Regions from separate parts of the Homo sapiens genome. Here regions 1, 2 and 3 are each linked to region 4. Evidence: fine-mapped expression QTL. A gene starts in region 4. Each other region holds a variant in brackets. All regions are shown on one strand. Distances are between the middles of the regions.

What was found. PIP is the estimated chance that this variant, and not a neighbour inherited with it, causes the effect.
Region 1: its variant is fine-mapped to the expression of SLC24A3 in whole blood (TOPMed, PIP 0.98).
Region 2: its variant is fine-mapped to the expression of SLC24A3 in whole blood (GTEx, PIP 0.98).
Region 3: its variant is fine-mapped to the expression of SLC24A3 in fibroblasts (GTEx, PIP 0.94).

Annotation. Positions count from the first base shown.
Region 1 is chr20:19,337,123-19,345,229 of GRCh38, reverse strand. The region is part of intron 2 of SLC24A3 (solute carrier family 24 member 3); the gene reads right to left. Among named protein-coding and RNA genes, the nearest start is that of SLC24A3-AS1, 57 kb to the right of the region's middle. The variant G/A (reference allele first, on the strand shown) is at 4,940.
Region 2 is chr20:19,327,829-19,335,935 of GRCh38, reverse strand. All of the region lies in intron 2 of SLC24A3 (solute carrier family 24 member 3), which reads right to left. Among named protein-coding and RNA genes, the nearest start is that of SLC24A3-AS1, 47 kb to the right of the region's middle. The variant A/T (reference allele first, on the strand shown) is at 4,936.
Region 3 is chr20:19,256,303-19,264,409 of GRCh38, reverse strand. All of the region lies in intron 1 of SLC24A3 (solute carrier family 24 member 3), which reads right to left. SLC24A3-AS1 (SLC24A3 antisense RNA 1) reads left to right here. Exons shown (of 8, transcript NR_024564.1): 4 at 257-332; 5 at 2,537-2,701; 6 at 6,715-6,781. Among named protein-coding and RNA genes, the nearest start is that of SLC24A3-AS1, 24 kb to the left of the region's middle. RefSeq lists enhancers at 3,390-3,439, 5,109-5,198. The variant T/C (reference allele first, on the strand shown) is at 3,578.
Region 4 is chr20:19,207,811-19,215,917 of GRCh38, reverse strand. It overlaps SLC24A3 (solute carrier family 24 member 3), which reads right to left and starts at 3,276. Exons shown (of 17, transcript NM_020689.4): 1 at 2,934-3,276. The coding sequence starts at 3,075. It overlaps LOC101929547 (a long non-coding RNA gene), which reads left to right and starts at 3,450. Exons shown (of 3, transcript XR_007067549.1): 1 at 3,450-4,289; 2 at 5,477-5,854; 3 at 5,949-8,107. RefSeq lists a silencer at 2,876-2,925 and an enhancer at 7,911-8,107.

The sequences.
Region 1 (8,107 bases), 130 kb before region 4:
ATCAGTCTTGTATATATTTTGTTAGAATTATACTCTTCTAATTCTCCATTCCTGGCATATAGGAAAGCAATCAACTCCTGTGTCTTTGTATCCTGCAACCTTGTTATAATTACTTATTAGTTCCTGGAGATTTTTATCAATTCTTTGAGACGTTCTACAGGCAATCGTGTCAGCTGTGAACAAAACCAGTTTATTTCTTTCTTCCAAATCAGTGTGTCTTTTCTTTGCTTTTCTGGTCTCACTACATTGTCTAGGGCTTCCAGTATGATGTCAAATAAGAATGATGAGAACGGACATTTTTGCCTTATTTCTGATCTTAGGGGTAAAGTATCTAGTTTCTCACCATTACTTTCACTGTTAAGCCCTCCATGTGACGTGGAGTAGTAGGTGCTCTACACATTTTCCCTTGGCATTCAATCTTCCTTGTCTGGGAGCTTTCTCTGGCCACAGACCAGGCTCCATCCATTATGTGGAGAAGCCAGGAGTGCTGGGGAGTTAATTTCTCCAGAAGCAAACGTCAACCAATAGCAGACAGGAGTTGGTAAATAAATGCTCCACAGTATTCTCACCTATTTTGGGAGACAAGCCTGTGGTATACTGTCTGCAGTGTCCCAGTCCTCCCCGCCTCCCAAGCCACTGAGTGGGTTGAATCCCCATTGTCCACAGAAGTGACTTACTTATTATCACATCTTTTTTGGCTTCCTGCCCTTGCCTGTCTCACTTCCCACTCTGCTACCAGTGCCTCTTGCAACTACCTCCTAAATAAACTACTGAATTTAAATGCTAGTCTCAGAGTCTTTTCTTTGGGAACCCCAACCCAAGACCAAGCCATGTACATATGTAGTTATGGTTTCACTCTATCTAAAGGTGTAAAAGGCTAGGATTCAGAATGCTCGCAAGTACTGCTCAGAGACAGAGTATCATATCCACTAGAAACCCAGCTAGTCATATATCTCAACCATATTATTAAACTTCAAAAATAATGTGGTAGTAAAAAATCAAGGAAAGTAAGAAGACAAACACATTTTAAAAAATGAATTAGCAATACACTTTATTGTGGCTGCAACATGTTCACTGCTCTTTCCATCATCCACCATTGTTCTCTTTATTCACTGAAGGAGGAGGTGTTCACAGATACTCATCTGCTTTCCCCAAGTCAGAAACCAATGTTCAGAAGAAAAGTCCACCATGGTTCTTTCTAGGTGCAGAAACCAGGGTCTATTACTAAGGTCTGAAATATTTCCAGATCATTACTGGCTACAGGTGAGGTCCACAGGAAATATCACCCGATGGCTTTAGAAAACAAGTCCGAGTCCAGGCCCTTTATGCTGTAACATTTCCACCAGGCGTATATCACCTGTAAAAATCATGTCCTAGTCCCCTTTTCCTTTTTATGAGTGAGACGCCTACCAACTGGTCCATAAGGCCCTCTATAATCTGGCTTCATTGAATGCATCCAACATTATTTCCTAACACTTTCCAGTCCCTCTTTCTGCTCCAACTAGAACTGGCTTTAAATCTTGAGCTCAGAAGAATTGCTCTCACTTGGTGCCACCCTCTCATGGCAATGCCCTCCTGTCTTCCCTCTGTCTGCACAATTCCAAACAGCCCCACAGAGACCCTGTACTCCATGAAGTATTACTTCCAACTCACCATTTTTTTTTTCTCCTTCAACTCTCAGAGAAGTAAGGCTGTACATTTCTACTGGGTGCAAAACAATATCTGCCGTAATGATGAGATACGATAGACTAAATTATGAAGCACTCACTATGCTCCAGGTGAGGGGTCTAATTGCTTCACGTGTGTTAATTCATTTAACCTTCCCCCATACCTTGGTCCTTTTATTATCCACATATTACACATGAAAACACATAGAGTAGGTGATGTAAACTGACTTGCCCAAGGTCACACAATTGAAATGGTAAAGCCAAGACTCAAACTCAGGTTGTGTGGGTCAAACAAACTGCTCTCAGTCTCAGTGGTACATTGCCTTGATAACCAGTCAGCCATCTGAATGTGGTCCAGCTGGAACAGCCAGCCAGTTCCAGAACAAACTATGGGATTTCACTACTCCATGCCTCCACAAATGCTACTCTCATTCCTCTGGATGATTTTTCTGCCTTTTCTTTTTCTTTTTCTTTTTTCTTTTTTTTTTTTTTTGAGATGGAGTCTCGTTCTGTCACCCAGGCTGGAGTGCAGTGGCATGATCTCGGCTCACTGCAAGCTCCGCCTCCTGGGTTCACACCATTCTCCTGCCTCAGCCTCCCGAGTAGCTGGGACTACAGGCACCTGCCACCACGCCCAGCTAACTATTTTGTATTTTAGTAGAGACGGGGTTTCACCATGTTAGCCAGGATGGTCTCAATCTCCTCACCTCGTGATCCTCCTGCCTCAGCCTCCCAAAGTGCTAGGATTACAGGCGTGGGCCACCGTGCCCGGCGCTTCTGCCTTTTCAAACTCTTATACATCTATCAAAGACCCACCTTCGACGTTATCTCTTCCGTCAAGCCACCTTCATCTGGAAGAATTGGCATTTCTTTAAAAAATGCCAAGAGATACAAAGATGAAAATAAAAAGACACTCCTTCTTCCACTAGAAACTCCTTCTTAACATTTGGTACATACATTTCCATGTTGCAGCTTGCTTTTTGCACCTAAAACAGTTGTCATAAATAAATTCCCATGTCTTTCAATATTCAACAACCTAATTTATAATGAGTTTCCCATATTCCAATGTATGATTGCTGTATAATTGAATATGATCTTAAACATCTGATCTGTCCAAAGATTAACATGGCCAACTCAGCAGAAATTTGCCATGATGAATGCCTAGGACCTGATTTTTGGAACACTGGCAGAGTATAGGTCCCATGGTTCTGTTCCAGTTTCCCACAGTGCTTGGGCAAGACATAAAAATGGATTTATCAATGGATCCACTCTGGCCAATGGCCCAGTCATCTTTGCCACTGCCAGTATTTTCTGTCTTGGCTTTAAGCTCCAGGAGAACAGATAGATAATTAGCTTAACTCACTGAATAGGGCATTGCATTAGGAAATTTTTTAAAGACTGGCAAAAGGGAACCAGATCCACAAACAATATTGTTACATGACTATTCTTACAGGTACAAATCAAAGTTGGTGCCCCACCTTAAGTTTCCATATCAATCTAATGCAAACTGACATTTCAACAATAACAACAACTAGTATTTTATAAACTATTAAAGTGCTTTTAATGCTATCTCATTTACTCTTCAAAAATACTTCAAAAATAGGTATTGTATCTACAAATGTGGCCACTGAATTGCAGCCAGATGAGTCCAGGGTCAGAAACACACAGAGACAATGACAAGGACACAGCAGCTGGCACTAGGAGCTGCCCATTGCAGAGGGCATCCAAGATCTGCCTGTCACAGAGATTAGATGGTCATACCTTCATTGGCTTCAACTTCTTCATTTGCAGAATGAAGAACTGAGACAGAGGATATCAAAAAGGCTGTATTCTGTGGGTCTACAGGATGGGAAACTGCTGCTATTTGGGGGACTTCTGCAAGTCTCTGTTTAATGCCAAATTAGCGTTCCTGGGTGGCTGGGAGCTGTGCCCAGTTGCTGAGTGAAGAAGTGTTTACTCTGTCTTGAGTCCTGAGTCCTTCCTAGTGTGACACTATATTTACCCCTGGAATCTGTGAAGTAAGCAGATGACCTTGTTTCTGGTAAGGTGTTACAGCGCAGGCTTTAAGTGAAAACAACAGAGTGCTTTACTGCCTAGAATCCCTCCAGAACACACCCCACAGGCACAGTGGATGGACTAGGTCCAGTTCCCAAACCTACGTGATCCTCAGATGACCTCTGGGCCTTTTGTAAAATACAGATTCCTGGACTCCACTCCTGGAAATTCTGATCTGTTATGTCTGGGCAGGTCCCAGGAATCTGTATTTTAGGAATGGCTTTCCCGGGGATTGTCACAAGCCCCTGAGAACTTCTGAATAAGCTAACCTCTCCAGGCTGCTGTCAACCTAAAATGCTTTGCTGGTTTGCCTACTGTGGTGGGTATCCACCTGGAAGACTCAAAAACTCCCGCTACCCAGACCACATCCCAGACCAATTAGTTCAGCCCCTCTGGGGATGGTTCAGGCATCTGTATTTTCAGAACTCTCTGGGCCATCCCAGCCAGACCTTGGTGCACTCATCCTACAGGTAGGAGGGAAGAGCTTACATGCAAGCAAATCAAGAGTCCTGAACTTGAACTGTGGTTCTATCATTCACTGTGTACAAGTCACTGCCTCCTGTACAAGTCAGCTGCTTCACAAAAGGGGCCCAATGAGACCTCCTTCATTCCATCGTGGTGGGGATAACATGTGATCTGCACACAAATTACCCTGTGCAACTGTGTCGCTCCCTCAACAAATCACATCATACAACTGTACTTTTCATATTACCATTTTTGTTATAAACAGAAAAACTAGATGACAAGATAAGAGGCAGAAATCTGAGCTCATCATGTTATTTCTGGATGTTTATTTGAAACACAGGAATCTAAGTTGCCAAGCGGTTCCCAACCTCATGTTGGAGGACCTGGGAATGCCTGATCCCCAAATTTTGTCAATGGCCTCTCTTCACCCCACTCTTCCTCCCTGCCCAGGCTGTGGGGATGGTGGAAACAGGAAAGTGGGGTGATGCAGTGAGAAGATCCACGCCTTTTATCACGACACCATCTGTATTCGTTTGCTAGGGATGCTGTCAAAAACTACCACAGACTGATTGGCTTAAACCATGGAAACGTATTCTCTGACAGTTCTGGAGGCTAGAAGTCCTAGATCAAGGTGTCAGCAAAGCTGGTTCCTTCTGAGGTTGTTAGGGAGAATTTGTTTCATGCCTCTCTCCAGCTTCTGATGGTTTGCTGCTAAGCTTTGGTTTTCCTCATCTTGCAGGCACAGCCTCCCA[G/A]CAACTGCCTTTATCTTCACATGGAGTGCTCCCTGTGTGCATGTCTGTGTTCATATGTCCCCTTTTTATCAGGACACCTGGCATGCTGAATTAGTACGATACTAATAAACTCATTTTAACTTAATTACCTCTGTAAAAACCTTATCTCTAAATAAGGTCACATTGTGAGTTACTGGGGGTTAGGACTAAGACGCCAACATATCTTCTTTTAAGGGACACAATTCAATCCACAACACCATCCCAAACCTGAACACCTGAGCCCACCCCTTGGATCCCCCACATGCCCCAAGTCCCAGAGACAGAAGACAGGCTGCCAAGGTGCAGGGTCCTGGTTAGAATGTTACTTTCATCAAACATCTCGTTTCATAAACTGCCAGAAGGAATTCTTTTGCAGATTATATGGAACTCACTCATTTTCCTTCTAGAATTCCTCTGCCTTCCTCCCTTCTTCTCTCTACCCAATGTGCTGTTGGTTAAGCCTAATTTATCAAACATGCTTAGTAAAATGTTACTGGCTTGGAGAGGTGTCCACATGCATCTGATGAGGGTTGTCTCCAGGTTACCCTGGTACCCTATCTCCTGGTTGGTTTCTGGCCCTCAGCCCCCAAGTCTTGGCAAACTTGGAAGCTTTGGGTTAAGGACACACTTTTCCCCAGCAGGTAGATCGGGGTGGTATCTCTCTAAAACACCATGTGGGAGGCAATGTGAAATGCAACTCCAGCATTTACTTAACAATTTCTGTTTCTTCTAGCACTGTCATACTTTGGGTTTAGTCTTCCTAACCTGTTTCTTCTACTTTTCCTTATAAAATGAGAAATATTAGAATTCTTGAACAGCTAAATAAGTGAAATGACATTTTTCTCTTTTACAAATGGTTATATAGACTGAGTGATAGCTTAGGAATTAATATTCTTACTGATTCTTCATCAAGTGCATTTATTTACATGCTTCCTTCTGCGGTACAAACACCCACAGATGCTGCACAAGGGGAAAAAAAAAACTAGATACCTAAAAAATAACTGCCCTCCACTCAAATGAAGCCCAGATGGTAAGAATGAGCACTGAACGCAATGATCTGAACTGCAGCTTCGGCCCGATGAACTCCCCATGGAATTACAACAGGGAGGGTATAAAAGGAAGCTCTGGAAGCATTCAAATTAATTACAAACAGAGTCAGGCTATGTGTCCAAGAATGCTTCTCCACGACTCAGCAAGTTCACAGCTCTTCCGAATCTTGGCAGTGTCCCTTTGCTGAGGACCAGCTATCCCATTCAAAATGTGGAACATCCCTGTGTGAATCAAAAATGACATCTCTGTGACAACCCATGGATGTGCTAAAACTAAGCCTTCCCAGCCTTAAAAAAAGGTAATAGAGACTCCTTTGAAGAGGTGAAACTCGTCATATATGGTGGGGTCAGAGTCATAAAAATAATCGTGCTAATAACCTCTATCATTGAGTGAGGGCTTATTCCACACACACAGGTAAGGTGCTTCTCAAGCCCATGCAATTTTCGCAGCCCCATATCATAAGCACTGTTATTACTCCTATTCTATTGATGTAAAACCTGAAGTCCCTTGAGGTCAGCATCTTGCCCAAGGTCACATCTGCATGTAAAGGAGCCAGATTTCCACATTGCATTTGACTCCAGAGCCAAGCTCTTAAATGCCTCATACATCTCAACAGTTCATCCAAACAACTGGCTGAAATAGAACAGGCATTGTGATCATATGGGCAGGTTGGACAGGAGGCCTTGATCCCAGAGGCCAAGACAATGCACTGAGCAGACACGATTCTCACTTCTCAAGTGGTCTCAGTGGCAATCTGCAGACACAGCCTCAGGGAGTTCCACACGTCTGAGAAGTGGAGGACATGAGGGCTCCTTCATAAACCAATCCAAGGGCTGTGGAACTTGTGAGAATGTCAGAGGAAGAAATCCGATATGCAACCAGCCAACAGGCCCCAAGGTTTGCTGACCCTGTCACACAAGAGACAAACCCTGGGAGGCAGGACCCAAATTAACCTCCTGCCATGTCAGAGGCTCTGCTGACCAAAGCCAGAGCAAGAGTGACAGGGCAGGGGAGAGCTTGACTTTGCCATGCGAAACTTCCTAATGAAAAGCTTTATTTAATAGCTTCTTTCTATTAAAGGAAAACAGTATATTTTTTACCATCTTGGTGAAGGGGCCAATGTGATAGATAATTACAACATTTTTTTCTTCCCAGTTCTCCATTCATCCCTGTATCCACGCCCTTTGCAATTGGATTTTTCTCCTCCCATCCTGTGGTGCCTCTATCCCCTGAAGATGGGCCATCTTTGTGACTTGATATGGGCAAGATAATTGAAGGAAGTGATGCTGTGCCACCCCTGCCACCACCCTATGAACAAGTCTCAACTGGCTACTGAGTGATGAGAGGCAAGTGCCAGCCAAAAGCCAGCCAACCACAAGACATGAGAGGCCATCCTAATCGAGCCAGCCCCAAGCTGACCACCAGATGATCACAGAGGCATGAACAAGCTCAGCAACCACCAGCTGATCCTGGCCCAGAGCAACATAACTGCCCAGCTGACCTATGGACTCATAAGCCATAGTAAATGCTTAGCGTTAGAAACGACCATGTTTTAGCGTAGTTTGTTATACAGCTGTAGCTAACTGATAACAATAGGGTTCCCAAGGCATAAATGGAGAATCTTTCCCCAAGACACATGGCAAATATGAGCTTGTTCTGAGCTCATAACAAGTCCATCATCTTATTTACTAAAACATGCTGCTTCAAGAAGAACTACCATGTGTGGACTTTTATTTAATTAATTAATTAATTTATTTATTTATTTATTTACTTATTTTGAGATGGAGTTTCGCTCTTGTTGCCCAGGCTGGAGTGCAATGGTGTGATTTCAGCTCACCGCAACCTCCACCTCCCAGGTTCAAGTGATTCTCCTGTCTCAGCCTCCTGAGTAGCTGGGATTACAGACATGTGCCACCACACCTGGCTAATTTTGTATTTTTAGTAAAGACGAGGTTTCTCCATTTTGGTCAGGCTGGTCTCGAACTCCTGACCTCAAGTGATCCGCTCGCCTCAGCCTCCCAAAGTGCTGGGATTACAGGCGTGAGCCACTGCGCTCGGCCGATGTGTGGACTGTTAATATGTATGAGGTACTAGGAAAAG
Region 2 (8,107 bases), 120 kb before region 4:
GCACTGTGATTGATTAGCAATGTCTGTCTTGGGCAAAATAAGGGAGAAAGATGGCATGAAATGAGTCAAATATCCCACACACTGGTCATGTATGTTCTACATCATCATTACCCATTTTCAATACAAGTTAATTGATGCTAACTCAATTTAAAATGAATTGTTGATCATGCAGGATGCTTTTCAGAAACAGGTGTGAATAATCTTCTGAATACCCTTGACCCAGTGATCTGATTGCCAGCTTCAATTATTTCACCTTAAAAGTCAAGAGCTGGTCAATACACTGAATCTGGAAAGGACTAGGCAAAATTGCCTAACCATTACTATCTTCAAATATGGGCATTGAGCTGGAGGCATAATTCCAGTAACCCCCTTGCAACAATATTTACCTGAGCAGCCTTTATCTGGGCTAAGTCAAGCACTTGGGCAGTCCTACAGGAATGAATTCCTTATCACTGAAGGCTCCAGCAATTACTGTTCTCTGTGTGCAGAGCTAGGATGCAGGGCCACAGCAATTTCCTACAGTGGTCCTCGAAAAAACTGTTGAATTTCATTAATTAGCAATTATCTTCAGCTGAGCACACAAAGTCCTATCTGTGGGCTAAGAGAAGCTGGAAACCCATCCAGCTAAAGTAGAAAAGACAAGATTTAAGGGGCAGTGGATATATATCCGTGGACACCACTCATTTCATTCTAGCCCTCTTAATTCCTAACTTTGAGACTATGAGACTTTGAGGGATTCATTTTCTAATATTCTATTTAGACTTTCACTATCCATGATGGTAGCCAATAACCGTATGTAGCTATTTAAAATTAAACTAAAATTAAATAATATTAAAAATTTAGTTCTTCAGTCATATTCCAGTCCTATTTCAAGCTATATTACTGCACAGTGCAGAGGGAGAATATGTCCATCATCAAAGAAAGTTCTGATTCAGACTAAAGTACCAGGTGCTGCAGTGCTCTGTGCCTATCTCCTGCATATGGCACAGCAGAGGCTGTTCACCACTGACATGCTAACCCTGTGTCTGTATGCTTAGTTTCTGGCTGGGAGGGGACATTCAGCCCACATGCAGGATGGGTCAAGCCAGCAGTGCCAACAAACACCCCTAGAAGCAGGGCTCAGCGAATGGCAGGTGGGAATCAGCAGATGAGCCCCCCAGCGTCCATGTTTCCTGGCTTACAGAGCTCTGAGGCGTGTCCTACAGAGGCTCCCAGAGGTGCCAAATTGCAATGAGTCCCAGCTGCCCACAGCAATCACCTGCTTGCTGAAATTCCCTTAATTGGCTTGACTTGGGTTGCCTTCTTTAGGAACCCACCTAAGACAATGAACTTCACTGGTAGTTCACAAATTGTAAGACAGTCACATTGATGTTGGCACTGAATCTTGGTGTTTGAAAACTAGCCAACTTTACCAGTGAAAAAGATGATCACTTATGGAATCAATATATGAGAGCTCAGAAAAAAATTAAGTCTGTTGCCTTACATTACAGAATTCTTTTTTTTTACTGTGTTGATATACTTCATATACTTTTGTATGCTTCATAGCACTCTTTATTTTTTTTACTGTGTTGATATTTCTCAGTTTGATCATTTTATTTAATTACCAAACCCACTTTTGAATTATTTTAGCTATCTCCAAAAATCAAGCCACTCTCCAAGGACAACATTTGACTGCACTGAGAATACTGAAGGGAATACATCCCAGGCTCTGAAAGCTATTCCCACAGTCTGGCTCTCAGGACCTTTGGCCAATAACAAGTCATTAGGATAAACGGACCATACTCACGGAGACAACGACCACCCATTTACATGTTTTGTTTCCTGTGTGACTTTTACAATTTGATTTCTTCATAGTCACACTTGTCTATTTCTCTTTGCTGTCTTTTTTTTTTTTTAACAGCTTTTCTTCTGATATAATGCACCTGTCATACATTTTAACCATTGAAAATGTACAATTCCACCCTTTTTTAGTATACTCACAGGATGCACAACCATGTCTTTTCTTGTCTTCTTTCACCATAAATGGAAACAGGCAGTTTGACCTCACACATTATTCCAGCTTAAGAACCTTATGGCTACATTCAAAAATCAAAGACCAAGTCATGTGTGGTGGAGGACAATTTACTGGCACTGAGGCTAGGCAACAGAATATGCAATCGTTATACTAATGTCGCTCCTTCCCCTCCATTTTTCAGAATTACCGTGTTCAGTCATCAACTCACCTAATCCCCAGGGCAGTAAAATAATCAGTTATACTGCACACACACACACACACTCTCACACACACACACACTCACACACACACACACACACTAGCAAGACTGGACTCACCAGTAACATATTGTTTGCTCAACGAAATACAAATTCCCACACAAAAATGTATTCTTTTAAAAAATTTCGTTTCTCCCTAGTTCTCTGATTATTACTGATACCACAAACCGCTTTGGTGAAACAATTCCCTTCTCTTCCCACACCGCTCTTTGCAACAGGCCAAATCTGTCACTTCCCCCTAAGACTCCTGCATCTGCTGGGGCCACTGAAGCTCCCACCAGAATCTGTTTCTCAGCCCCTAGTTTGAGCACCCTGGTTGTAATGAACAGATGCATTAGGGCAGATAAATATTAAGTCCAGGGGGGAAGATAAAAGGGTACCACTCTTCATAACCAACTGAATGTCTGACCACAACTACTGATGTCAGGGATAAATTTCTTTCCAGGGACACCCACTGTCCCACTACACATCCCCTCACTCCTCAGACAGATGACAGATAAACAGACAGACAGCCACATGGCTTGAAGTGTGAAGGGTTTACAACCACTGCCCCTCTTTAAAGAATCACTCACAGCTTTGAAGGACACTTCCCTGGCCCTCCCAGTTTCTGGCAGGATGATCCCACAACAAAACAGCCCTCTATTAGCCACAAGAACCCAGACACAGCCCCTTTAGCCTGCTAAAGAAAAACCTCAGTTCATCTGACCCTGGGAGGAGACAAAACCAGAAAGCTATTTAGAGCATCCTCCCTAAATTGTCCTGGCTCCCTAGACTTAAGAATTCCAAATTCTCAATGAGGGTGGCTGGTAGCACAGGATAGAGGCAGAGAAGAGAACCCACCAACAGGCAAGAAAAGCCACAGCCTCTGTGTCCTCAGAGTATCCCATGTAGTGCTGGAGTGTTCATGGGACCAAGGTCCTCTTGCCACCTCTCCTATTTTAGGGAGCGCTGGGAACCCCCAAATACCCTTCTGAAACCTCAAGGTGGTTTTCTCCCTGTGGAACTGGGTCTCCTCAGTCCCATTCTGGGTTTCTATTTATTCTTCCCCAGTGCTCAAGACTGAAGGCAGCTCAACAGCAGAAAGAAGTCAGTTGAAGAGAGATGCATTTTTGTCATTCTTGGCATGTGTCAAAGTAATGTTGGAAAAAGAAACCTGGTAAATTTTTAGAGTTGCTGAAAGGCATTGAGTGACTTCACTAAAGACATGTGTTGATATAAAAGAAATAAAAAAAGATGGTGTGCCGGAATCATGCTATACTCCTAAAGACATCAACCCCATGAGGGTGAGGGCTGGCGAGGGGAAACAAGGCAAGGGGGCTCAGGGAGCTGCCTTGCTCCCTGTTGAGGGGGTGGCTGTGTCCCCAGAGAGGCCACAGCGGTGGCCCACTGGCTTCTGTTCCTGCTCAGTGTCCCACTACAATTCAAGCTCCACACAATAATCAGAGTGATATATGGAGACATGAATTCATTAATGTCACTTCATTCTTCCAACCTTCCATGGACTCCCTCTGCTACTTAGAATAAAATCTAAACTCCTTACCATGGCAGACAAGACCTTAGATGGTCCAGCCCTGCAAGACGCTCCAATTCTTCTCCTTCTCTCCCTAATCCCCAGCTGCAATGTCCTTCTGTGTTCCTCAAGCACCTCCGTCTCCCTCCGGCTTGGGTGCCTTTGCAGCGGCTGGTCCCTCTGCCTGGAATGTTCTTCCTTGGCTGGTTATAGGAATGACTCCTTCCCTCAATCAAATTCCTTTTCCCATGGCTCCTGATCCAAAGGACGCCTCCCATCGACCCCCATCACGACCTATTCCTCATTCCCTTTTTCCGTAACACTGATCAAAATCAGATGCTTTCTAATTGTTCTTTGTTTATTCCTTAATTCTGACACCTCCCCCTAGAATGGAAGCTTCATGAGAATCAGGAGCTTGTCTGTGTGGCTCACAGCATGAAAGATGGGGCCTGAGATGGACCAATGCCCAATCAATCCTGAAAGAAGGCATCAATCAGTCAATAAAAAGGGGGCCTGATTTATTTATTCTATTTTTTGCAGGGAAGTAATTTCAAACTTGTAGAAAAATTACAACAATCGTACAAGGAACTCCCATAAACACTTTACCCTGATTCACCTATTGTCAATATTGTACTCATTTTTGTTAGCATTCTGTTTATCTATCTATATCATTTCTATCTCTATCTATTATCTCTCTCTATCATCTATCTATGCATTCATCCAACTATCCTATCTATCCATCTATCAATCATATCTACTCTATCTACCTACCTACCTACCTATCTGTCCACCACTCATCCATCCATCTATCTATACCATTTTTCCTGAACTGTTCTAGAGTAGGTAGCAAGCATCATTGCCCCTCACCCTTAAATACTTCAATGCTTATTTCCCAGGAATAAAGGAATTCCCTAACATGACCACAGCACACTCATCAATTCCAGTAAGTTTATCACTGATACAACTCTTTTATCTAAACTTCTGTCCATTTTCAAACTGTCAATTGACCCGATAATATGCACTAAAGCACTTCTCCCTCCAGTACAGGATCTGATTCAGGTGTGGTTAATTAGCTGTCCCACCTCCCTGGTCTCCTCTAATGTGGAGCTATTCCTCAGCCTTCCTGTCTTTCACAACTTCAGCATTTTGGAAGA[A/T]CACAGTCCCTTGCTTCAATAGAATGTTCCTCATTGGGGGTTTTTCTGGTGCTTCCTCATAACTAGATTCAAGTCATGCCTTCCTTGCCAGAATACTGCAGAAAGGAAGGTGTATCACATGTGGAGGGCACCATGACCATCGGTCTCCTTGGTGATGTTAACTTTAACAAGGAAGTTTCAGTCAAGGTGCTGTCATATTTACCCACTGTACACTTATGAGAGGCATTTGAAGACCATGCAAATATCCTCATCAAAACTTTCCCATGGATTTTGCATCTACTGATGACTTTTATCAGACCAATCTTTACTGTGATAGTTACAAAATTATGAGTTTCCAACTCAGCACCTTCTCCACATTTAGCAGTTAATAGTCAGTGTTCTACTGAAAGCAAGAGCCCTCCTCCTTCCACATTTGCTTCTCCACTGCTTTATCTATTTATTATAAGTATGAAATCATGGATTCTTATTTCCCAAGATTTATATTTTATCTCCTCTCCTGAAATATACCATATTTGGCCAGTGAGAGCCCTTTCAAGATGGCTTCTGTATAAAAGAGGATAATTTTTAAGTACATTCATAAAATCCTGGTTGCTTCAAAGATGCCCTTTTTCCCCTTTAATGGGGAAATAAGCGTTTCTCCCACATCAGGGCCCTGGACAGCTGGGGGCCATTTAATTGGCTCAGCCACAGCTCTTCACTGTCCCTGACCACCTCCTCTGGGACAAAGAGAAACCAGCCCTGAGGAGTCTGAGCAGGTCCAGACCCACCGATTGGAGGCCCTCCTCAGCCCAGCCCTGCCCAGGGAAACCTCTGGCCAGGAGACAACAGCACCGCATCCCTGCAAGCAACTAAGATGGTTCCGTCCTAAGGCACGATTTTGTTTCAGAAGACGAGTGTGTCATCTGGTTAGCCCCAGACTCTTGCTGCAATAAACATGGTGTAAAATGGTCTGTGATGTGTGTTAAGGAGCCCTTCTGAGTTAAAATCATGTGTAGAGACTGCAGATGATTAAAACTAATTCCAACCAGCTCGAGGGGTGTCCAGTAACATGGCAGGCCTCCAACCTGGAACAAGCAAAATTTCACATACATCAGCTCACAGAGGGTCCCCACATGCTGCCAAGGTCAAAGCCTTGACCTTCAAATAGCACAGGTAAAAGGCTAGCACTCACTGTGTATTAAGTAGATGAGATGAAGCAAACAGCAAACTTGGAATCAAGGAACATGTTTTCAACCACAAACTAACTCACCTGAGTCACTTAGCTATGAAGGGGGAAAAATATTTCTGGGGCAGAAGATTCAGAAGGAGGGATCTTATCTGTTCCCAGAAGAATAAATCCACAATATATCTCACTGCCCTGCAAACTAGGCAACAAATTCAATAATACTGCATACAAAATAGCCTTCATAGCTTCATGATAGAATAAAACAATCAAACATTATAATGACCAAAGTAATGTGACAAACTTCTTTCTTGAGCATATGAAATGATTTATAAGTGCCCAAGGAATAGCTGAACTAAACTGGACTTGAGAGCATCTCGTTGTGTTTCCTATAGGAATAATGACCGGCTCTACTGATAGGAGGGAAGGTATGCTCATGTAATGAAGGAGTGCAAGAAATGGATTCAGATCAGTTAATATGAATAGAAAAAAGACTCTGTAAAGCCAATACATTCAGGTAAACAGGAAACCATTTCATTAGCATAAAAACAAGCTTTTTTCTTTTTTTATTATTATACTTTCGTTTTATTTCTAACCAGTAAAAAAAAAATCTTATTCCCATTTTCCCTATGAACTACTATACTACTTCACCTTTCTGTAGCAAAACTAAAAAGAGTTATCAATCTGCTTTGCTTCCAATCCTTCCCCTTCCATCCTCTTTTGGACCCATTACAATCAGAATTTTGTTCCTACCAGCACCACAACTCTTCCTGTCCATGTCACTAATGGCCTTGGAGTCGCCTGATGCATCCACAGCCTGCAACCCACTGCTCACTCCCGCCTCCCTGGTGCCCAACTTTCAGGCCACCTCTCCTGATCCTCCTCCCGCCTCGATGGCTGCTCCTCCGAGCCTCCTCTGCTGGCTCCTCGCAGAGCCTGGGCTGGGCTCTTAGTCCTCTCTCTGCTTACGCTTGCTCCTGTGGGGAATCCCCTCCACTTCATGGCTGTCAATATAAGCTTCTGTCTTCCTCCCAGTCCCCCCTTGGTATCTCCAGCCTTGACCTGCAGCCTGAACTCCAGATGCACACACTCTTATTATCATCCTACTCATGATCTCAACTGGGACACCCAGGACACATCTCAAAATGAGCACTTCCAACACAGGACACCCGGTCTCCCATGAAGCTCACTCCACCCGCCCCTCACCTTCTCCTACAACTGCTCAGGCCAGGAATTGCAGAGTCTTCTATTGCTCTTTCTCACCCACATCCACTCCTTCAGGGTGTTGTCACCAATTCAAACCATGTCCAGTCAATCCTGCAAGAAGGCAAACCATGTCCGGAATCAGATACCGCCTCACCCTGCCCCTGTTACTGCTCTGAACTGAGCCACCATTATTATAATACTCTCTGGAGTCTTTCACCTTCCACTCTTGCCCACTACATTTTATTATCAATCCAACATTCTGGTTGATCCTTTAACAATGTATGCCTGGTCACAGGAAGCAAGAGGCGGCTCTCCACTCCACAGTGAATGCAGAAGACCTCCACCAGCCCCCAAGACCCTAAGAGACCTGGTTCCCCACGACCTTTGACGTCCCTCCAACTCCTCTCCTCCTCCCTCATTCTGCTCCAGCCACACTGACCCTCTGTGCCATTCTCTGGACACACCAAGCGTGCTTCCATCCCTGGCCTTTGCTGCCCCTCTGCCTGGATGCTCTTCCTCAGAACTCTCCATGGCTCCCTCCCTCCCTCCTTCAGAGACTGCTCAAATGTCACCTCAACCTTGGCCTTAAAAAGCAAGCCCTCCAAACTCCCCCCAACTTGTCATCCCTCTCACCTTGTTCATTTTTTTTCTGTATCACTTTCGAGCATACTTTACATTTATTTGTGCATGTTTTTGTTTGTCTTCACCACCAGCCCCCACCACCCCAATGGAAACTCCATGCATGGAAGGACTTTTCCTTCTTTGTTCCTTGTCCTTATGTTCCAGAACACATAATGAGTGACA
Region 3 (8,107 bases), 48 kb before region 4:
AGCAGAGAGACACATAGCGTATGCTTGGGGCAATGCTGTATTGCAATGAGAGTCTGAGCTTACACTGAACTGCCCATGGCACCTGAGGCTGGCACCAGAGGAGAGCCGAGGGTCTGTCTTGAGGGACACCAAGTGATGTCAGCCCTGAAGGTAACCTTGACCTCATCTTGGAAACAATGTCTCTTAAAACAAGTGGGAAGATGTGTTTGGTCCAGAGCCATAGAAGTGGATAATTTTTTTTTTTTTTTTTTGACAGGGTCTTGCTTTGTCACTCAGGCTGGAGTGTAGTGGTGGAAATTAGCTAGCTAGAACTACAGACGTGCACCACCACAGTAAGCATTTTTTTTTTTTTTAGAGATGGGATTTCACTATGTTGCCCAGGCTAGTCTCGAACTCCTGTCTTAACCTCCCAAGTCGCTGGGATTACAAGTCTGAGCCATCACCGCCCCTGGCCCATAGATTTTCTGATAATGTTTCTCTCTTCTCCTTTCACCATTGGAACTTGACACCAGAACTAAAATATCCTCTTGATGCCTCACAGTGAGAAAGACAGAACTGAGGGGAGGATAGGCAGTGAAGCTTTCGTTTAAACACAAAGCCACTTTATTCTTCTCACTTTTTCCTATTCTTTGGCCCATTGCTTGCAACTTTCCAAGTTGGAACTGAAACCAGCAATAGGAGAATAGCAAGGTTGAATGGAAAGAAAGATAGATCCATGCCCTCTCAGTTTCAGCCCAGAGTCTGAGATCCACTGATAGGTAAGGGAAGGCAGGGAAAGGAGAGAGGATGTGGCTCAGTCAGACCAGGAGGGGTTGATGCAAGCAGGACTTTCCTGGCCACCACCTGCGCCTGAGAAACGGGGAGGCTTGCTTTGCATATTTCAGCCAGAGAGCAACGCCTCTCTCACTCTCATCCCTAGTGAACCCCTATATTTCTAATTGATTAGGCATTTGCCTAAATAATCAGGCTTTTTTTATTTTTCAGACTCCTGACAAGGAGCACTGGTATCTAAGTGCAGACTTCCAATAACGTCCCCCCTTGAAAACAAGCAATATTCAGCATGTAGGTTTGGCTGTGTGCCCCTAGCTGAGGGCTTCTGTCTCATTCTTCACAGTTTGCTCTTTGCGTGGCTTTCTGCTTCCTTCTCTCCAGCCCACATTCTCTCTCCAAAGCCACATGAGACTGTTCCCTTCTCAATGCTGTGAGCTACCCTGCTCATTGCAGCCACTACCAGCCAAGGTCAGCAAGTCATCTGATGGGAAGCCAGAAAGAAAATCCTTTTCCATTGTTTCTAAAAGTGAAAGAAACAGGAACAAACGTGGGGGGGTCAACAGAAAACACACACACACACACACACACACACACACACACACACAAAGGCTGGAGTGGGTGATGGAGCGAGGGATTCTAGGAACAAAGGGGCGTGTCTGTCTCTTCTGGAATCCCATACGGTCACTCCATGGCAGCAGGATGAGTGGGTGGTGAAAGGGCAAATGGCTCGGGGCAAATATTGTGACTATAAGGACACACGCAGCTTTGTCAGTGCCCAGCACACAATCTCACAGAGGGTAGACACTGCTGAAGTTAGAGCTGTATTACATTCAGAAATAATCGTAAGAGCAAGAGCAGTAGTTAGTGTAAAGTGGGTGGGATTAGTAAATGTCCCCATCATAGATACCACACACATTGTCTTTTTCTCAAGATCCCTTCCACCAGTCCCCATTGAGTAGCAGCAGAAAGTTATGGAGAAAGGGGAGAAGGGGTGGCCTGACTTTACCTTAGTTCCAGGGATGGGCCATCATCATTGTAGCACAATTGGGGGAATCAGCATATGGCATCTCCTTGACCAAAGGGACTGGTTCAGGGAGAGGTAAGTGGCCCCATTCCTGCCAATGAGATGGTAGGGGAGGTTTGCTGGTGGCTTCTGAGAATAAAGCCCTCTTTATCAGAGAGAGCTACTGATGTCCTATTTCTCTCTCTTTCTTTTTTTTTTTTTTTTTTTTTTGAGACGGAGTCTCGCTCTGTCGCCCAGGCTGGAGTGCAGTGGCGCGATCTCGGCTCACTGCAAGCTCCGCCTCCCGGGTTCACGCCATTCTCCTGCCTCAGCCTCCCGCGTAGCTGGGACTACAGGCGCCCGCCACCACGCCCGGCTAATTTTTTTGTGTTTTTTAGTAGAGACGGGGTTTCACTGTGTTAGCCAGGATGGTCTCGATCTCCTGACCTCGTGATCCGCCCGCCTCGGCCTCCCAAAGTGCTGGGATTACAGGCGTGAGCCACCGCGCCCGGCCTCTCTCTCTTTCTGTGTATAGAGGCGATGCTTGCAACTGCTGCAGCCATTTTGCCACCATGGAGGAAGCTTCTTTGGGAATGATGCTAACATAAGGAAGGGAGGGAAAGGAGAAAACAACACTGGGTCCTTGATGACATCACTGTCCCATTGATCCTACCTGCCTTGACACCCACACTCCCTGCAGAAACAGCTGCTGATAAATCTCCAATACATCAAGCATTTTGCATTGTTTTCTATTTTTGACAGTGTGAAGCCTCATGACTTATATGTCAGATTAAGCCTTTTGTTAAGAAGATATAAGCATTGTCATGAGAAACACCAGACTTTGGTTTAAGTTACTGCTCTGCAACTTTCGGACCTACGTGGCCTTACGAATGCATAAACTTCTTCCTGGAAGCTGGCGCTACACAGGTGTGGACTGTTCCATATATGAGCAAGCTTGGACACAGATATTTTTGTGAAGGGCAGTAAGGCTGGGCACAATGCCTCACGTCTGTAATTCCAGCACTCTGGGAGGCTGAGGTGGAAGGATCGCGTGAGGCCAGGAGTTCAAGACCAGCCTGGGCAATACAGCAAAACACCATCTTTACAAAAAAAAAATCATTAAAAAAAAATAGCTGAATGTGGTGATGCACACCTGTAGTCCCAGCTACTCATGAGGCTGAGGTGGGAGCCACTTGAGCCCAGGAGTTCGAGGCTGCAGTGAGCTGTGATCATGCCACACCACTGCACTCCAGCCTGGAAGAGAGTGAGACCTTGTCTCTAAAAGTAAAGTAAAATATAAAACTGGGACAATGAATGCTCACCACAAAGTCCCCATCCCCCTTCTTGGGGGTCCATTGTCCATTACCTCACATCATGTCTCCATCAGGACAGCCTGTCAGTCAGCTCTAGCACCTCTCAGCTCTAAACTGCAGTAGAGAGGGAGGACAGACCAGAACGAGGAGTCTCTGGAATAAATTCCCATCTTTCCAAGGGGATTCCTTGCCTCAGAGAGGTTCAGTGAAGCCAGAAAAGGCACTGTGAAAGGTGGTGTCTGATTTGCAAGGCAGCTTGAAGCAAGGGTTGAGCCTCATGAGGAGGGGCTGGGGCTTCTGAGGGGCTATAGAAAGTCTTCATTGCCATGTCCTGCTTCCAAGGCAACCCTGATTCGGTTTCCCATTAGAAACACATTGAATCTGTGACTCGACCTGATCCCATCCTCTCCAATGACAGGCTGTCTACCGCCAGATGATAAACAGGAAGTCACTGAGTAAGAGGAGCGTGTCGGTCCATGCCGGAGGGGGT[T/C]ACCTAACTTGGGAAGGCAGAGCTCCAGTAACCACATCTCATACTGAGAATGATGCCTACAGCAATGATGCCTCGCAGGCCTTCTGCAAAGGGTGGCAGAGGAGGACAGCAGTCTCATAGCCTCAATCTTTTTTGGGAAGCAGTAAACCAAACACGCTCTTCTATAGAGACAAGTGCAGCAGTTCTTTTCACAAATTCATGCAGAGGATGCACATGTTGTGAACTGAGAAATTGTATCTCGAGTTCTTTCATTTTCAGTTCAGTTTTACTTTACAATAACTGCTGCTCTTGCTACTATTATTATTTCTAAATACAACACAGCTCTAACTTCAGCAGTGCTTACCTTACCCTCAGGGAGATTATGTGCTGGACACTGGCAAGGGAATATGTGTACTAGGAGTCATAATATTTGCCATGCTGAGTATGCTGACCTCATTCCGGGCATGGTTTTGAGTACTTTCTTTTTGCATCTCAACACCTTACTTAACCTTACAACAGCTTTGAGAGCTGGGTGTTGTTATCCTCACTTCCAAAAGAAGAAATCAATAGCTCAGAATCGAGTCCAGCAACTTGCCAAAGGTCGCAGGCTACCTGTTATCTCTGCATAGGACTAGACTGCAGGCAACAATTAGCCCAATGTCAGCCTTAGGACCATCCTGGCAGAATAGAGGTGATCTTGAATATAATGGGAAAAAAGAGAAAAAGAAAAAATAACAATGATGAAGTTGATCACCTCAGGTTCACAGGCTGTGCAGCAGCAGAGCTGGGCCTGGTATCCACCTTCCAGATCCCACTCCAGAGACCTTCCCTTAATATTTTGCTACCTTAATCTCAGGGCATACGGATTCTTTTTCTTTGGCTTCACTAACATGCTATGTATTTGGCATGATCTTCCCCTCAATGTTTCCATCTGAGACATGGGAGGGAGAGACCTACTTTGTTAAAAGGAAAACATGATAGAAACATTAAAAAGAGATTTTCCCATAGCACAGGGGGAAAAAACTATAAATAGAGTGAAATGTTAATGGTGAAATCCTGGTGGTGGGTATCTGAATGTTCACCGTCTAATTGTTTTGATGTTTCTGTATGGTTGAACATTTTCATATATAATGTTGGGGGAGAAACAATGTTTCCAATATCTCAGTGGTACATTAATATTGATAACACCCTCTTGTAGTATCTGAGGGTGATAAGAAGAAAGATCAATGCAACAGCAAGGGCTGCGGTCAAGCTCGATGTGTTCCATGAACCCCTCCAGGGGTGGCCATGACTGGCTGCCATGTGGCCACTGTGGTCACATCACCTTGCCTGGTCGCCAATCTTCAGGTGTCGCTGCCACTCAGCAGTGCTCCACTTCTGAGACTGTTTCTACTATGATTAAAGGCCTCTGGTCCTGAACTGTCACCAGCAGAGTGACATGGTGCCAACACATGGCCAAGCATATGACAAACATCTACTGTTGACAAGACAACATCCTAGAGGTGTCAGGCGGACGGAAGCAGCCCATTCCAGAAGGAAAGCTCCTGCATGCTGGGTCCTTTGCTCCTGAGACATCTGTACGGTGGAGTCAGAGTGTCCCAGCACCTCGCTGTCTCTCAAGCTGCACACTCGTTTCATTTCCTCTTAGACCTGCAGTGTGACTTATCTTTTCATCAGAGGGGCTTGGAGGGCTTCCCCTCAGTAGCAAAGCCATACCAGCAAGATGTCCTCCTGGGAGATCCATGAAATAACTTGGCTCAGAAGCAAATTATCTCTGAGCAGCTCTATTTTCAATCCTTCCTCGAGATATCACTATTACTAGAAAACTTACCTGGCTCTAATTTAATTGTGAAACAAGGCTTGTCCCTGTGCTAATATTAAAATGGAAATCTTCTAGTGAAATGGCTCATTTCTCTGGTGAATTATTGCCAGAAGGAGATAGGGCCTGAATGCAATTTGCTTAAGTGTCTCACAAACCACTCTGATTCCTGAAGACACTGGCCTTATCTTGTGCTTGATCGACCCTGCACAAGCTGCCTGTCTGCTGCTTGTTCTCTGGAGTTCTCTGAAAAGCCAGTGCTTGGTGGAAAAGCCACAGGAAAATGTTCACTTTTATATCTGCCTCATCATTATAGTTTCTTTCTTTTATTTGGAGACAGAGTCTCACTCTGTCACCCAGGCTGGAGTGCAGTGGCGCGATCTCAGCTCACTGCAACTTCCGCCTCCTGGATTCAAGTGATTCTTCCGCCTCAGCCTCCCGAGTAGCCGGGATTATGGGCACGTGCACCACAACCAGCTAATTTTGTATTTTTATTAGAGACAGGGTTTCACCATATTGGTGAGGCTGGTCTCGAACTGCTGACCTCGTGATCCGCCCACCTCAGCCTCCCAAAGTGCTAGGATTACAGGCGTGAGCCACGGCACCCCACCATCATTATAGTTTATTACTATTCCTCTGTATTTCTAATTATCATCTAAAAAGATGCCCAGTACCCAAAGAAGTTTGCTTTTGCCCAGTTTTCTGGAAAAATGTTCAGAGTGGCTTTTACCAAAAGCTCTCTTCCCCTTGCCTTTGCCCAAAGCCTGGAATGGGGAAGAAGAGCTCATGGGGTGGGAAGAAGAGCTGTGAGGGCAGAGGCAGCAAAGGTGCCCGCCTCCAGGAGCTTGCAGCTGGGCCTCCCCAGGATGGCGGTGCTTCTATCAGCTGTTTACATGAAAACAGGTGAAAAGGGAGGTAAGCCAGTTTAGGAACGGCATTCCAAACAGGAAACTACCTGAGTGCAGGTGCTGCAGAAAACAGAGGTTGATAAAGGCTCACAGCCCCAGGGCTCAGACTCTTACCAGCCTTTAAGAAGCAGGTGAGCTGGGCACAGTGATGCGTGTGCCTGTAGTTCCAGCTACTCAGGAGACTGAGATGAGAGGACGGCTTACGTGCAGGAGTTTGAGACTGCTGTGAGCTATGATCTCCCCACTGCATTTTAGCCTGGACAACAGAGGGAAACCCTATCTCTAAAAATATAAAAATCAAAAGAAGCAGTAGAAGGAGTAAACAGGAAAGACTCAAGCTCCCAATGGAAATACACACCATATCCAGGAGTTTGGAGGGTGTTTGGTTGGATTTGGTTTTTATGGACATGAACACACTCTGGTTCTTGCAGGAGTCAAGCTGCTCTGAAAAGAGATATAAGTGAGACTTCTGAATTTCCCTCCAGCACCCAGAAAAAGGTAGGAAACATAACAGGCATTCTTAATTAATTCCTGCAGGAGAACTAAGGTAAAAAGATGCTTCCCAACATCATCCTGAGCCCTCCTTGGAGGTACAACTGGAGGCCGAGATTTGTGTTTTGACATTGAGCCTTTTGGGGATTCAAAGGCACCTCCCTGGTCTCCCCCCAGACCATAAAGATATGAGAAACCCAAGCACCTGTTCTTGGCTGACGCCAGCTGGGAATTTACTGCCCATTCTCCTGGGCCTGATGCCCAGCAGGGCCAGTCTCAGCGGAGTCAACCGTCTGAGAGGAGGATCGATTAAGGAAACCGCTGTTCAGGCTTAGACTATAGATTTTTTGAAACAGCCCCATCCACAGCTGTAGATGGCTCCAGGCTGCTTACGGAGGCAGGAGAAAGTGATGGTCCCAGCTCCTGGGCTCGCCTTATGTGACTCTGTGCCTCCTTTCAGGATTTCTCTTTAAAAACCTATTTTTGCAAATGGTTTTCAAAAAGACCCAAATGAACTTTTTTCAAGTTGGGTCATAGCCATGATACCAGATGAGTCATCAGAAGTCCAAACCTAGGGATCGTTTTGTGGAAGAATATAATTTTGGAACTAGGAAGGTCCTTAGAGAGGGTTCGGTGCAGCAGTCCAACAGAAATCTAATGCGAGCCATGAATTCCAGATTTTCTAGCAGACATATTAAAAAGTAAAACCAAACAGGTGACATTAATTTCAATAATATATTCTACCTAACCTGATATATCCAAAATATTAACATTTCAACATGTAATAATTATAAAAACTATTTTATCAGCTTTATCAATACATAGCTTAAGTATCATAAAATTCTCTTTTTTTTTTTTTTTTTTTTGAGACAACGTCTTGCTCTGTTACCCAGGCTGGAGTGCAGTGGCATGATCTCAGCTCACTGCAACCTCTACTTCCTGGGTTCAAGTGATTCTCATGCCTCAGCCGCCTAAGTAGCTGGGACTACAAGCGTATGCCACCATGCCCGGCTAATTTTTGTATTTTTTGTAAAGATGGGGTTTCACCATGTTGCCCAGGCTGGTGTTAAACTCCTGGCCTCAAGTGATCTGCCCACCTCGGCCTCCCAAAGTGCCGGAATTACAAGCGTGAGCCACTGCACCCAGCCAGTACCATAAAAATTCACCCATGTAACGTGTACAATTAAATGGTTTTTCATATATTTACAGAGTTGTGTAACCATCACCATCATCTAATTTTAGAATATTTTCATCACCCCAAAAAGACACTTTGCATCCATTAGCAGCCACTCCCTGTTACCCTCTTGACCAGCCCCAGGCAACCATGAAACT
Region 4 (8,107 bases):
AAATTAAGCAGACCTCATGTTACACCTCAGCAGAAAAGAATCAATGTAGATTCTTACTGCATATAACCAAATACTGAATATGTGGAAAATGTTTTCAGTATATAACCAAAACTTTTCAGTACATAGCCAAATCTGAGTTTCGTTAGATGTCTAGAAAGGGATCTTGGATTCCATATGATTAGAAATGTTATGAAACATCATATAATATAATTATCACACATCTCTATTTTGCTTTGGTAAAAGAACTGTCATTTTAAGAGGAAAGAAGAGAGAAAGGAAGGGAGCAGGAAGGAAGAAAGAATGAAGGAAGGAGAGAGGGAGGAAGGGCCAACAGAAGGAAGGAGGGAGGGAAAGGTCAATATGTGTTAGAAAACGAGCTTCTGAGAAGTTACATTTAACAATCACTGCATGGCTTTCAAGGTGACTAAATGAAAATATTACCTTTGATCATTATGAAGGTACCCCCTATGAGATTATATAAATATTACAAAGCTACACCCAAATGGTGGTTTGAATATGAGGACAGAGTAGGGAACAAAAAACCAGGTTACCTCAGGTTGGTTTTTTCCTCTACTCTTCGAATGCTGTGTGACTTTAAGCTAATCACTCAGCCTCTCTACACCACAAGGTCTTCGAAACAATGCTCCATTCCAAACTTCAGTATCTGTACCAAAGGACCACTAGGTAGTGTGTGCTCCAAGTTTCCAGGGTAAAAGTCACCATTCAAATGCTTACGTGTGCCAAACGACAATTCCCCTTGCAAAATTATCATTTGCAGATTCACACACATTAATTAATATGTTAAAAATTATCTAGAAAAACCTGTGTCTTGCTGCAAAATACTACTGTGCATCACATACCAAAATCATCAATACCTAACGGAAAAAAAAGTGATTGGAGACCATTTCAACTCATATGTCATTCGGGGGCAACACAGGGAGGCTGGCTGGCATCCTCCTTAACATTTGGCTTTTGCCTGTTAGATCTTCAGTTACTGGGGTGTGGAGGGGTCCTAAGACCAACAGAGATGAGAAGGGAGGAAGAGGAAGTGAGAGGAAAAAAGAATATGAAAGGTAGGAAGGAGAAAGGTAGGACAGAGGGAGGGATGCGGAAAAGGCCGTGCTATGGAACTAAATCTGAGTCAGTGGCACCTGAATAGAAATGTCACTACCAGGGAAACCATTCCAAAATGACATTCCAGTCCCCAGGTTTCAAGTTTGCAGAGTGTCTGGCCTCCTCTCCTCCCAAATCCCAGCTTTTCAGGGCCCAGGCAGCCCCCTGTCACTGATTGACTTAACTATATGAGTCACATCCTTCACCCAGAAAAAAATGTCTTTTATATTCTTGAAAGTGGTGGGAACTCTATGTCTCATAGAGCCCCAACATACCAGAAAAAAATGGCCAGCGTGTAATCCACTAGGAATAGCCCTTTCCAAAGGTGGCATGAACTATAAACTGGTTTTTCACTGGAGAAAAATAAAAAAGGAAAATAAAAATGGGATTCGGGAAAACCCCCTTAGTGAGACTGTCAGTAGACAGAAGTCTGGCAGATGTGAATCTGCCCTGGGAGAGATTCTGCTTCCCTCACACCGGCACGGCCCCCTTCCTGATGTCAGAACCCAAGGCTACGGGATCTGAGATCCAGGAGAGCAATGGAGAGAGCCGTGGAGTCTTGAACAGCTTCACTGAAGACCAAGACGGACTCTCTGCTATTACCATAAATGATGAAGTCTGTCAAGCGGTCTGCTAAGACTGAATGAAGACTGACGCCTGTTTCACTTCCCCACCAAGCAGGAGACCAGCCAAGCTGGGGGAGATCCCTTTTTAAATTCATGGCACCTTTGAAAATATTTTACGGTGACTATCAAAATGTCTTTATTCTGCACCTCATGACATCTTGCATTAGAGCTACGTCGACCTCAACACCACAGCACATACTTGTAACTGTTTTTTTGTTTGTTTGTTTTGTTTTGTTTTGTTTCTTTCTCACAACCCTTTACATGGCTGTTTTCCCACTAATCGTGCCACTTCCACGGCCGGGATATAAAACCATTTTACAACAGTTATTCTCCCATGTTTTTCCTTCATTTTATAGACAGCTGAATCCCAGGATCGAAGCTGTTTCAGCAGACAACTGTTGGGAGCACACAAGATCTATTTCAGCTCAAGAAAGGCCAAGGACAAAGACAAGACAAAAGTTGTGGGTTAAAGGGCAGACTTTGCGCAGAGCACCGGTAGAGGAGCGGACAGTGTGATGCGTGGTCCACTGCAAACCATTTCTTCCACAGCAGCAGCTCTGCAAAAGGGACCTCTGAGGAAGAATTCCCTGTCTTCCCAGTGAGTGGTCATTTTAGGAGAACAAGTCCCCTACTAGCCCATAGCTGGAGGGCCAACACTTTTTCTCTCCCTGAAGTTCCCGGCACCTGTTCTGAAAGGGGGTTGAAGAGCTCTCTACTCGGGCCATCCCGCCTGCTCTCTGGATGGAGAACATACGGACAACTGTGTGTTAAGCAGTCCCCTTGAATCCTTCAGCAAGCCAAGGAGTATACAGGTGGTCACCTGCACAGGTGCCGGGTCTACCACCACAACTTTATCCCTGGCCTTGGGGGCTGATGGAGAGTAAGACTCCCCACCACCGCCACCAGCAGTACCTCCAGCTCGCGAGTAAGCAGCGCACAGGCGGGCACAGGTAAATGTTCCCAGGGCGGCCAGACGCCTAAGCCTGCTGGCTGCTGGCGCTCAGGGTCCCCACCTCCATGCCTCTGCGTGGGGCAGGGGGAGTCCTCGTGCCTGGCATCCCACTCCCCCCGCCAACCCAGCCCGCTTATCCTGGGGCTCCGGCCGGGCCGCCCGAAGGAGCCCCGCGCCCAGCCCCGGGAGCCCCGAGCCGCCGGAGCCGCAGCGCCCACTCGGGGCAGGCAGCGTGCACTCACCCTTCTGCTCTCGCAGGCTCGACAGCGACCAGAGCAGCAGCGCCACCGAGGCCAGGAAGCAGAGCTGGCTCAGCAGAAGGTCCCTCCGGCGGCGGCGGCGGCGGCGGCGACGCGCGCGGTCCTCGTCGCCGGACGGCCGCATCCTCGGGCGGCCGGGCGGCGGCCTCGGCGGGCGGCGGCCGCTCCTGTCGCGGGCGGCCGCGGCGGGGACAGCGGCAGGAGGCAGCCCTGCGCGCAGCAGCCGCGCGTCCTCGCTGCGCTCCCACCCGGCCGCCGCCTCCGCCTCCTCTTCCTCCTCCTCGCCGCTGCCCGTCTCCTCGTCGTCGCCCTCCTCGTCGCTATCGCCCAGTCCCTCCTCCCCTCCCTCCTCCTCCTCCTCGCCGCTCGCCCGCGCCGCCGCCTCCCGGCGCTCGGGGTCCCGCTCCTCCTCGCGCGCCATGGCTCCCACGCTCCGCGCCCGCGCTCGGCCTGGGGCGGCGGCGCGGCGGGGGCGGCGGGGGCGGCCGGGAGGCGGGGGCGGAGGGGGCAGAGGAGGAGGAGCGGGGAAGGACCGACGGTAGGAGGGCCCGCCGCTGGCCAACTCCGCCGGTTGGCAAAGCCACCCCGGACTGGCTCTGGCCTCGCCGGCTGCAGGAGCGCCTCGCGGGGCCGCCCGCCTATTCCATGGTCGGCGCGATGGGGGCCGGGGCCGGGCCGGAGCGAACAGGGAGCACCGAGCGAGCTGGGAGCATGAGCTAGCGCAGCTCCCGGCAGCCTGCAGCGGCGAGGCTGGTCGGGCCAGGGTTGGCGGGGGGCAGTGCCTGGGACACAGCCCGGCGCTGGCCGGCATGGCGGGGAGGGGGCGCGCTGGGAGGAGACTGGGCTGGGGAGGGATCCCTGTGTGCAGTCCTTCAACCCTTCTGTGCCAGGGGAAGAGGGACGGCGCAGGGGGCCCCCTCTCGGGAAGCACACACGCTGCCTCCCAGAGGCCGATCTTCACCAAGAAGGATTCGCTGGAAACTTTCGGAAAACCGAGGGGCTCTTCAGCCTCCTCTCTACGTGCTACCTGGAGTCGGGGCGCCGCGAGTGCGCTTGGCTGCCCGCGCCCAGCCTCTGGCCTCGCCTCTTCTCGCGGGCCTCCCGGGTTTCCCTCTGCCCCCTTGCGGGGATCCCCCTGTGCGCCCGACTCGGGATCTGGAACAGGCCTCCCCAGAGGCTGTTAGTTCCATAAGGGTGTCCGGCTCCCCCCTCTGTCTTGGGCTCACACTTCGCTTTCTGTTCGTGCTGGACCAAGTCCAATACTGTGGCTGATCGAAGTGGGGACAGCTGGCACGGTCCCTGGAGAGGCGGCCTGAAGAGGCTTCTGGCCTTGTGCAGGTAACACCAGCCTGCCCTACCTCCAACGTTAGAATCTTAGTCCTCCCATTTCCCCCATTCTAGGTCTCCTGCCCCTCCTTGCTGAAGGTGTGGGCTGCCCTAGAGATGGCTGGACTCACGACCTGCCGCAGGTGCCCATTTGGAGGGGATCCCTGGCCATCCCAGACACAGCCCACTCTCCCTCATTGGGCTTCCCTGGACTCTTCCCAGATGCTAGCCTGGGGCTGCTGGCTGGGCTGAGGAGGAGATGCCATTGTTGGGGCGGAGGGTGGGGGGGCGCTGAAAACAAAAGACCTTGTCCAGAAAGGGATCACCTGAAACCAGGTGTCTGTCTAGGTGACTGTCTCCATGGAATCCATTCAGATCAGGGAATCTAGCTTCATACCCTAAGGAGGTGGGAAGGAAGCAGAGAACCTCTGTATAAGGCTCCCCTGTCTAGGTCTGTTCAAATGTGTCCCCACCTGTGACTGACCTACCCCCCCCGACCTCCTCCCAGACAATCCCTGACAGCGCCCGGGGACAGCAAGGTCACAGCAAAGGGCAAAGGAAGTGGTTATAGGTGGCCTCCTTTCCAGAGAAAGGCCATCTCACCCAGGGAGACCAGAGACTTTTCCTTTGTGGGTATATCATTTATGACTGCTGTTCTCAGCCTGGCATCTTCCAGACACTCAGAGTACCTCCCCCACAATGCCTGAGTGGTTTTCCCTTTGCTTTGGCTGCAGATACTAAGGAGGGTGTAAAAATACGAGTTCATCCGTGCTGGAGTGTGTGGGGAGAATTCTCTAGTTGTGTTATCTCCATCAAGCTTTTGCAGACACAGAAAAGAAAGTTTAGGAGCTGAGAAGAATTCAACTAACCAGGAAAGTCACTCAAATAGTGTTTTCTAGTGAAAACGAGGGAAAATAGAAGGTGAGAGAGGGAATCTGGAATTAATTGAGTTAGGAAATGAACACAAGCTCCAGGGGAAAATACCATAGGCTCAAGGAATTGTGTAATCTGGTGATGGAGGGGGAGTTAGGAAGGGAGCCAGGAGGAAGGAGAATAACCAGGAACTGGTAATTTCTTGGAAATTATCTCAGCACCAGGAGTGTATGTGTGTGTGTGTGGCGGGGTGGGGCGGGGGGGCCGGGGGAGAGCACTCCTGTGGCACACAGAAATGATTCTTGGGTTTCTATTCATTTTGACAGATTTTGGAGTGAAGGGCACTGTTAAAGTAAAGCACAGAGAGTGATTCCTTGGGCGGCCAGGCACCACCTAGGGAAGAAAGGTGGGGATCCTGGTCCCTAGGCTGACAGCAACTGAGACCTGATAGGTTCCTCAGCCCCCCAGGTGATGGCCAAGTGAGACAGGCCTCAGGAGCTCCTCTCCAAAGAAAACAGTCATTTTTTTTCCTACCTGTCCCTTTCAGTCTTTGGAAGCTCCCTCCAGAAACCGAACTGTGAAAGGAGCAAGAGTTGAAATGAAGAATGTGCTCTGATACTTCAGTCTGAGAGTATTTCTTTCCTGGAGAGAGAGGCATCACTCCTAGATGTGTGGGGGTCTTCACCCTTTCAGGAATAAGACAGGTGTCTTTACAGAGCACCTCCCCACCTTGGGCTGGGTTCTGGGGTCACTGTCTACTCCCCCTGTTTTGACCTTCCATAAACATTCTGTTTTCAGGTCCCTGCAGAGACTTTGGACCTGATGTGGTGAATAAAGTTGGTTAGTCTTTCTCACAGTTCTACCTTTAGGACAAAGAATAGAAAGCCTCCCGTGACTATATTCACTAACTCTCAGCCCAGGCCAGATCATCCACCAGCCAGTGAAAGGGACCTCGTCTGTGGCCAAACTAGGTGCAGCTCGGTGCCCTCCTGTGATATTTCCAGCTCTCCAGCCTCCTGCTGACCACAGCTCACAGACCTCATGGAGTAGTTTCCAGGACAAAGCAAGGTTATGTCTCCACAACACCAAACATTCCCAGGTGTGGCAGGCAAGCCATTGATTTAGAAGAGAGGAGGAGAGAGGAAGAGAAAACCAGAAAAGGCACTTTCTTGGTAAAGAGACATCAGCTTTCTCACCATGGCTGTTTCATAACACAAGGAGACCTGGCCCAAGCTCAGAGGGGAAAGACCCCTGGGTGTTCATGGAAAACCTTTAAGCACAGTGAGACCAAATGTTAGTAGATGGGGGATAAAAGGGAGAAATTCATGGAGTATGCCTAGAACAGGCCTTGTATGCAGCATCCCCTTCTTGCCTAGGACTTGAAGGGCCAGGCTTCCTGTCATTGCCTCACTCAAATGTAGCCCAGGAAGACATTAGACTGATAGCACTGATCACCTCCAGACAAAACCCCTGCACCTGCACAGTCACATAGACTTGGACAAAAGCCCATCCTTACTAAGGAAGACCTAACAACTATTTCTTCTCACGCCCATTCTTGTCCACCGTCTTTATCAAAAAGCCAGGAAAACTGCTTCTTCAGACACTTTCTGAGCCGGCTGTATTTTGAAGGACAAAAAAAAAAAAATTACTCTTTTGAGAGCATTGTGTCTGCAAGGTGGGCTCACGTTATTTTTGGTGATCAGTTTATGACTGGAGTTCAAATAGACTGCTTATTTTATAAGAGTTTTTAATTTTGAATATTCTTTTTGCTGAACTGTGTGCATTTGTTTGGTTTTTAACTCACCACATGAATATGACTATAGATTTTTTTTTCCTAGTTGACCATGGTCAGATTCACAATTGCCTTTAAAAAAAATTTGTTGGCTGGGCACGGTGGCTCACGCCTGTAATCCCAACACTTTAGGAGGCTGAAGCAGGTGGATCATCTGAGGTCAGAAGTTCGAGGCCAACCTGGCCAACATGGTGAAACTCCGTCTCTACTAAAAATACAAAAATTAGCCAGGCAGGGTGGCGCATGCCTGTAATCCCAGCTACTCAGGAGGCTAAGGCAGGAGACTCTCTTGAACCCGGAAGGTGGAGGTTGCAGTGAGCCGAGATCACGACACTGCACTCCAGCCTGGGTGGCAGAGCGAGACTCTGTCTCAGAAGAAAAAAAAAAAAAAAAGAAAATGTGTTGAAGTATAACATACATGAGGCAAAACGCACACAGCTTAAGCATTAACTCAATGACTCTGTATATACGTATACATCCTCACAGGTTCCAGACCAAGACATGGAACATTTCCTGCTCTCCCTGAAAGTCTCCCTGTGCCAGCCCCTCACCAGGCAATAATTCCCCAGAGATAGTGCCTCTTCCCAACCCTGTACCCTAGATCATTGTTGCCTGTCCTTGAACCTCAGATAAAGGGAGGCTCCTTTTGCCCATCTTCGTTTTTGTGATGTCTGTCCATTGTGGTGTGCATAGCTGTGATTTGTTCTTTTTCACACTGTGAAGGTGTAGGTGGTTTTCACCTGATGCTTCAGTTCCCTTCCAACTTTAGTATAAGCCAAGAATAATCAAACCACTACATCTGGATCAGAGACAAATGACCTCCCAGATTGGCTAGTTTTGTAAGGAACTTCAGTTGAAATTGAAACAGTCATCAGCTGCTTCTCAAACCAGCTACACTACATAAGGAGGAGCCCAAGGGAAACTGCAGGACAACAGGTCCACTGGGAAACTTCAGGGGGCCAAGCTGTCAAAGACAAGCACAGAAAAATTCCTGCAATGTGCGTTAGACCTTGAGGCAGCTTTTAATGGCAAAAGTCAGTACAACCCATTTCCTTTTTCTCTAAATGAGAGGAAAGTAGAATAGGTTCCATCAGGAAAGAGTCACACCCAGGCCATGACAAACTCATGGAGGATCCTGTCAATCAAATTCCTTTCTGCTGGGCAG